Linked DNA regions of Homo sapiens. The protein of the gene in region 1 interacts with the protein of each later gene in a biochemical or structural test. Each region holds a gene or a part of one and is shown on either strand. Other genes may lie near its edges. The genes, in order: EIF4E and EN2.

Evidence for each region.
Region 2: the proteins of EIF4E (region 1) and EN2 form a complex in vitro, tested with the Homo sapiens proteins (one study listed by BioGRID).

The regions. Positions count from the first base shown.
Region 1 is NC_000004.12:98,922,366-98,926,174, reverse strand, and holds part of EIF4E (eukaryotic translation initiation factor 4E), read left to right. Parts: intron 1-3,809. UniProt on the Homo sapiens protein: Acts in the cytoplasm to initiate and regulate protein synthesis and is required in the nucleus for export of a subset of mRNAs from the nucleus to the cytoplasm which promotes processes such as RNA capping, processing and splicing.
Region 2 is NC_000007.14:155,456,822-155,461,135, forward strand, and holds the start of EN2 (homeobox protein engrailed-2), read left to right. Parts: upstream 1-1,307; 5' UTR 1,308-1,556; coding exon 1,557-2,241; intron 2,242-4,314.

The DNA.
Region 1 (3,809 bases):
GTGTGTAGGGGTGCAGGATCTTGCTCTGTTGCTGGGGCTGGAGTGCAGTGGCGCGATCATAGCTCACTGCAGCCTCAAACTCCTGGGCTCAAGAGATGCTTCCATCTCAGCCTCTGGTGTAGCAAGCACTACAGGAGCAGGCCACCACGCCCGGATAATTTTTAAACTTTTTGTAGAGATGGAATCTCGCGATGGTTACCCAGGCTGGTCTCAAACTCCTGGACTCAAGTGGTCCTCCCACCTTGGCCTCTCAATATGTTGGGTTACAGGCGTGAGCCACCGAGCCTCGCCTGGATTTTTTTTTGAAGCAACTGATTAGAATTGGATTGTACTTGAGATACCCCTGCTGAAGGCTGCAAAAATCATGTTTTTTCTTACTTCAGCTAGTTTGTGAGCTTCCATAATGGTTTTCTGCTGTGCATAATCATAAACACTTAAAAAGAGCCATGGGCTTTTCCTGCTTATCCCATCATGCATAGGTATCTGGATGATTTTTGTCTATGGACATTACATAAAATATCATTTTCAGTTTGATATTATTGTGTGGTTTTCTCTTTGTATGAGTTGAGTTACATGAAGATGTGGCCCACAAATATTAAATTTGTTGAGAAGCTTGAAAGGGAAAATTAAGGGAAACATTTTACCTCTTAACGGATAATTTGGCAAAAATTTGAACGTTAGGGCAAACGGTACTCTGATGTTATTCTATCGGCATTTGAATTGTGGCTGGGTCAAAATTAGGTTTAATATTAGTCTGTGAAAATGGCAAGGCCATCTTACCTCCAGTAGGTCGTGTTTCTTTGTAGCTTTATCTTCATTCTACATCGTTCATTATTAGAATTAAAAAAATTTTTTTTTGACTTGTAGTTCCTTTTGAGGTAAGAGATTAATTTTGATTTCTTTAGCTTAACTGAAAGTGTATAATTTTACTTGTTTTTACATTGTAGCTCTTGAATTTTTTGAAACCACGCTAATTTCATAAGTGAATCAACTTGGACAATCAGCTAATTTAATGCTTCCTTTTTTATACTTTGGAAACATGCTCTGTACTACACAGCTTATTAATAAGAGTAAATAAGGTTTATATACATATTGACAAATATTTGTTGTACTATATAATTCATATTAATGAACAATTGAATGCCAACCAGACTATGCAAATTAGTGGACTTTTTGCTTAATGAAAGAACCCACTATATCAGAGTTCCTCGATAATCCACGTAAATTTGGCTCTGGGGTTCATATTCCAGATTTCTTCAATTAAAAGAAAAAAATATACTTGCTGAGTGCGGTGGCTCACGCCTGTAATCTCAGCACTTTGGGAGGCCGAGGCGGGTGGGGATCACTTGAGGTCAGGTGTTCGAGACCAGCCTGGCCAAAATGGTGAAACCCTGTCTCTACTAAAAATACAAAAATTAGCCAGGCCTGGTGGCAGGCGCCTGTAATCCCAGCTACTGGGGAGGCCAAGGCAGGAGAATCGCTTGAACCTGGAGGTGGAGGTTGCAGTGAACCGAGATGGTACCACTGTACTTCAGCCTGGGCGACAGAGCAAGACTCCATCAAAAAGAATAAAAAAAAAAACAGAAACAAATTTCACACTTCATTTTATAATCTGAGTTAATGAGCATGATTATTAGACTTAGAGAAATTCAATGTAGACACACAGTTTATACACAGAAGTTGCAGAGGGATAATATGCAAAATGAATTATGTAAGCTTACTCTAGTTTGGACAGAAAACTGTAGGCAAAAAACATTTAAGTAAAATATTGTTTAATTTACATAAAGTTAAGAATATGGGCCGGGTGCGGTGGCTCATGCCTGTAATCCCAGCACTTTGGGAGGCCGAGGTGGGTAGATCACCAGGTCAGTAGTTTGAGACCAGCCTGATCAACATGGTGAAACCCCACCTCTACTAAAAATACAAAACTTAGCTGGGCGTGGTGATGCGTGCTTGTAATCCCAAGGTACTCAGGAGGCTGAGGCAGGAGAAGCTCTTGAACCTGGGAGGCGGAGGTTGTAGTGAGCTGAGATTGTGCCACTGCACTCCAACCTGGGTGACAGAGCGAGACTCCGTCTCAAAAAAAAAAAAAATAAACAAAAGAAGTTTCCTTAATCTATTAGTACCGGTGAGTTGCACCATCTTAGTCATAGAGACTTTTTTGAGAAGTGGAAATGAGCATGGGTTATAGTCTCATCTTAATATCTGAGTGATCTTGAAGACTGAAATTTCTAAGTCAGCTGAAAGTCGGAATAAGATATATTACGGTGATTTCAATTTTTAAATGCAGTATTCAAAGGTGACAGTTTGTCAACTGTAAGGGACTAAAGTTGACATTCCATGAATGTTTTATACTCATGTATATCCATGCATTTACATACTATTTTCCCTCTTTTCTTGGAAATTCACATTGCTGCTTTTTAATTATCAATCCTTAGCCATTAGCAAGAAATGCAAAGCCTGTGATTCACAATCCTAAGATGTTCTTCCCACTCCTATCCCTACCATAAAAATCACTAGTGTTCCTTCAAAAGTCCCTAATCATGTCTCCAGAAAAAGAAAGGGGCTGGGCTTGGTGGCCCACACATGTAATCCGAGGCTTTGGGAGACAAAGGCAGGAGGATCACTTGAGCCCGGAGTTTGAGACCAGCCTGGCCAACATGGCGAGACCCTGTCTCTCCAAAAAATTAAAAAATTAGCTGAATATGGTGGTGCACACCTGTGTCCTAGCCTCAGGAGGCTGAAATGGGAGGATCCCCTGAGCCTGGGAGGTCAGAGCTGCAGTGAGCTGTGATCACACCACTGCATTCCAGCCTGGGTGACAGAAAGAGACCCTATCTCACCAAAAAAAAAAAGAAAAAGAAAATGATTTTGCGTGTGTGTGTGTGTGTCTAAAATACTAATAGTCATTTCTGGGCACTTCTGGAACCTGAGAATGTGGTCAGAAATATAAGGGGTTTTTTTTTTTTTGTTTCCCCAGTTGGAACTTTTGATACATTATTCCATAGAAACAGTAGGAAAATGGGCCGGGCGTGGTGGCTCACGCCTGTAATCCCGACACTTTGGGAGGCTGAGGTGGGCGGATCACCTGAGGTCGGGAGTTCGAGACCAGCCTGACCAGCATGGAGAAACCCTGTCTCTACTTAACAAAATTACAAAATTAGCTGGGTATGGTGGCACATGCCTGTAACCCCAGCTTCTTGGGAGGCTGAGGCAGAAGAATCGTTTGAACCTGGGAGGTGGAGGTTGCGGTGAGCCTATGTCTGCCATCGCACTCCAGCCTGGGCAACAAGACTGAAACTCCTTCTCAAAAAAAAAAAAAAAGAAAAAAGAAAAAACAGGAAAATGAAGTTTAGTCACACTATATTCAGTAAATTTTTGTGGAATCATTACAAATCTAACCAGCATTGGATTTATAGGGATATGGAATTAAGGATATGGATTTATAGTTGTAAGCAACTAACTAAAAAAACCTTATAAACATACCTTGTTTGTAACAGCTATTTTTAATGTAGAAAGATCGTTATTTGTAATTGCTACACATAGCACTTATTCTATGTTAAGTACCACACTGAATGCTTTACATATATTAACTCATTTATTTCTTTTTTTTTTTTTTTTGAGACAGCGTCTCACTGTTGTCCCAGCTAGAGTACAGTGGCGCGATCTCGGCTCACTGCAACCTCCGCCTCCTGGGTTCAAGTGATTCTCCTGCTTCAGCCTCCTGAGTAGCTGGGACTACAGGCACGTGCCACCACGCCCGGCTAATTTTTGTATTTATAGTAGAGATGGGGTTTCACCATATTGGC
Region 2 (4,314 bases), on another chromosome or scaffold:
TTTAGAACCTCCGAGGCTCCTGGATTTCTCCCTTCGCAAATGGAGCCGCATACTGCATTCCCCCGCTCTTTCGGATCGCTAAGCATGTTTCATGAGGGTCGCTGTCCCCGGGTGGAATGCGGCCGTATGCACGCGCCTCCCTGCACACGCACACACACGCACACTTACAATAAGTGTCTGCAGGAGGAGTGTCCTGCGCGCCAGCTCTGCGTTTAAGACAGGAAGCTGCCGGGTTACCGAGTCAAATGGGAGTGACACTATTCCTCTCCATCAGCAAGGAAAGCGGACCACAAAAGTCCCTTTGTATCTCGGCAGCTCATTTAATATTATTTATGCATTTTGTGCAAGGAATTGTGGGATTTCGCCCCACGGTAAACAATATGGAAATCTTAAAAATAGCGATCTTCCTGTGCGTGTCCACCTACGCGCCCCGGGGTGACCTGGCGGGGCTGTCGCCGGGTGACTCACACCCCTGAACCGCGAAGCGACAGGGAAAGCGCGGGCGAGCGCAGGAGACGCGGTCGGGGGTCTCTCCGGGTTCCTGGGCTCCCGCACCCGGAGCGGGGGACGCGGCCGCTTTAAGGGGAGGAGGGGCGGCGGGCTGCTCCTGTCACCCAGCGGCGGCCGGAGCGTCACGTGGGCGCGCGGCGCCGCGGCCATTGGCCCGAGGCACGTGTCCAGGAGACCGGCCTGCGACGTCACTCGAGGGGGCTCTGTTAAAAATAAGAACAAAAATCCAGAGTGAAAGTGTCTCAGGTTGCGCCGAGTGGCCTGGAAATTTCCGAGCCCGCGCGGAGGCCGAGGCGGCGAGGGCGGCGGACGGCCGGGGAGCGCGGGCGGCCCAGCCCGGCCCGGCCGGGCCCTGGCCTCGCGTCTCTCACCCATGCGACTCGGGCCGCGGAGCTCTGCGGGGCTCGGCGGGGGCGCGGCCGCACGCCGGTGGGGCGCCCCGGCCCGCAGCGGGGCGGCGGCCGCGAGGAGGGGGCCTCCATGTGCGTGCGGGCGGTGGCGGGCGCGCTGACCGCGGGCGCCCGGCACCCTCGAGGGCCGGCTAGGGCGTGCGGGCGGGGACGGCCGGGCGGCGGCGGCGGCCGGAGCCGGCCCGGGCGGGCGTGAGCGCCGGGGAACGCGCTGCCTGCATGCGCGCAGCTCTCGCCCCGGGCGGCCCAGGCGGCGGCGCCGGAGCCCGAGGCGGCCGGACGCGGAGAGGAGCGGGGAGCCCGGGAGGCGGCCCGCGTCCCCGCCGGACCACTGCGACTGTCTAGACCCCGGCTGCGCGGCGAAGTCGAGGACTTGGCTCTGTTGAATCTCTCATCGTCTGGGCGAGCGGGGCGGCTCGTGGTGTTTCTAACCCAGTTCGTGGATTCAAAGGTGGCTCCGCGCCGAGCGCGGCCGGCGACTTGTAGGACCTCAGCCCTGGCCGCGGCCGCCGCGCACGCCCTCGGAAGACTCGGCGGGGTGGGGGCGCGGGGGTCTCCGTGTGCGCCGCGGGAGGGCCGAAGGCTGATTTGGAAGGGCGTCCCCGGAGAACCAGTGTGGGATTTACTGTGAACAGCATGGAGGAGAATGACCCCAAGCCTGGCGAAGCAGCGGCGGCGGTGGAGGGACAGCGGCAGCCGGAATCCAGCCCCGGCGGCGGCTCGGGCGGCGGCGGCGGTAGCAGCCCGGGCGAAGCGGACACCGGGCGCCGGCGGGCTCTGATGCTGCCCGCGGTCCTGCAGGCGCCCGGCAACCACCAGCACCCGCACCGCATCACCAACTTCTTCATCGACAACATCCTGCGGCCCGAGTTCGGCCGGCGAAAGGACGCGGGGACCTGCTGTGCGGGCGCGGGAGGAGGAAGGGGCGGCGGAGCCGGCGGCGAAGGCGGCGCGAGCGGTGCGGAGGGAGGCGGCGGCGCGGGCGGCTCGGAGCAGCTCTTGGGCTCGGGCTCCCGAGAGCCCCGGCAGAACCCGCCATGTGCGCCCGGCGCGGGCGGGCCGCTCCCAGCCGCCGGCAGCGACTCTCCGGGTGACGGGGAAGGCGGCTCCAAGACGCTCTCGCTGCACGGTGGCGCCAAGAAAGGCGGCGACCCCGGCGGCCCCCTGGACGGGTCGCTCAAGGCCCGCGGCTTGGGCGGCGGCGACCTGTCGGTGAGCTCGGACTCGGACAGCTCGCAAGCCGGCGCCAACCTGGGCGCGCAGCCCATGCTCTGGCCGGCGTGGGTCTACTGTACGCGCTACTCGGACCGGCCTTCTTCAGGTGAGCCCGCGGGGACCACGCGTCCCGGCTCGCCGCGGGGAGGCCCGCGGAGCTGGGGGGCGGTGCTGGCGCGGGAACTTACCGGGAGGAAAACATCTCGAACCTCCCCCGCGCACACGCACAAAGACTCACGCGACATTGTGTGAAGCTGACGCCGGCCCGGGCAGCGGCCAGGAGTCCAGCGGCAGGACTGATTCGCTAGGGGGTACAGACTTCTTAGGACCGCAGAAGGGACCTTCTTTCTTTCTCTGTCTCTCTCTCTCCTTCCTCTCTCCCTGTCTCCCCTCTCTGTCTTCCACCCCGCCTTGGCGCATCTCTTCCCAGCCCCTAGCCCATGTCTCCCCCACTGTAGTTTTTTTTGGTGGGAACGTGGTGGCTGGAAGATGGGCCCGGAAGTGCACACTCTCATCCCCTTCCCTACGATCTTCCAACTCAGGCCAGGCCGGGGACGCATGCCCCAGCCCACCCCAGACTTGTCCTACCATCCGGTTATCCCGGCTGTGCTCGGGGAAGAAAAGGCGAGGCCCTTTGCCGCTCTGCCTTCTGCCCCTCGGGCCTGCGCTGACCGGTGGGACTCAGGAGGATGCACACAGGGAAGGAGGAAAATAAAGGCGCCCTTTCCCCTTGGCTCCACTTTGTTTGCCAGCGCCAGCCCGCAGTGGTGGGGCTCAGCCCCCTTCCTGCACACAGCGAGGACAAGGGAGGCAGCCGTCCCTCCCGGCACCTGCCATCCCCAAATAGAAAGGACCTTCTCTCAGGGTTTCCTGGGGGCTGCTGATGGGAAAGAGGCAGCATTCGCAGGGGCCCTGCAGAGATGCTGGATATATTTTTTCATAGATCTGCGATTTTAAAAAACTAAGTCCATGTCCTTGTAGAAATCATCAACTGCATTCCATGCGGGTCTGCGGCTGGGAACCGCCATTAGAAGTGGACTGTTTGACCCCGAGCTGGCAGCGGATCCCCGCTGCCCCCAAACCCTCAACTATTTTGCGGGGGTCATTTGCCCAGATCACAGCAGGAGTGAGCCAACCCTTGGGCCGCCATCCCGCAGAACTATGCGTGCATATTTCTGATGAAATTCAGATTTCTCAGCTAGATCTGAAATTTGCTCCATTGTTCTCGTCTTCCTCCTTTGTTAATATTTAATTAACATACAGGCTCACAATGCCGGGCGAGGAGACTCGGCCGGGCTTTGTGCGGCGCGGGAGTTCGCTGAGCCAGCCCCCAACGGCCCGGGAGCTGGGCAGCACCGCCCGGCCCGGCCTGGCCCGGCCCAGCTCAGCCCAGCCCAAGTCGCCTATCTTCATGGGCTTTAAAATATCCCTGCAAGATAATGTTTCTGTTCTTTGGTTTCTCCGAAAGAAAGGGGAGAGAGAGTTTTCTTGGGGAGGTTTGATTCTGTTTCTGAGACTCCTAAGTATTTGTCTTTTGAAAGAAAATCAAGAAAAAAACCTAAAAATTATTATTTTAGGGAAATTTATTGCCATAAAATGGTGTCCTTTTGCGGGCTGCTTCATGAGTGCATTAACAAGAGCCCCAGGACCAGAAGAGTTTGGGGGTAGAGTTCTGGGGAAGGGAGTGGTTGGAAACCCAGACAGAGATGGGCTCTGGGAGCAGGAGGCTGGGGCCTCTCCTGGAGCCTTGTGCCCCATCCCCCACCACCGTTCCGGAGGGCCAACCCCATCTCCAAATCTGCACCTACCCCTACCAAAGCCAGGCCCACTGGCCTGGAGCCCTGGGCGTGAGCAAGACAGGCACTGAGTGTGTACGTGTGCATGGGGTGGGTGCCCAAGTATAGGGTGTGTGCTCTCATGGGTGGTGAGCCTGCCTATGGGTTGCTTTAAAAGCTGCCCTTGGTGCTCCTGAGGTGGTGCCCACAGATCCTCTTTCTCCAGGCCTGTCTCCTGGAGAGAGCACAAGACTCACTTGGCCATGAGGGAGTGCTTGGCATTCACCCTGGGCCTCCAGTTCGTCCCCCACCTCTTGCTGGGCACAGCCCCAGCACCCTAGTTGACTCTCCTGACCTGGGCAGGGTGCAGTCCCAGGGCCTCCAAGGAGATCCACATTCCTCTT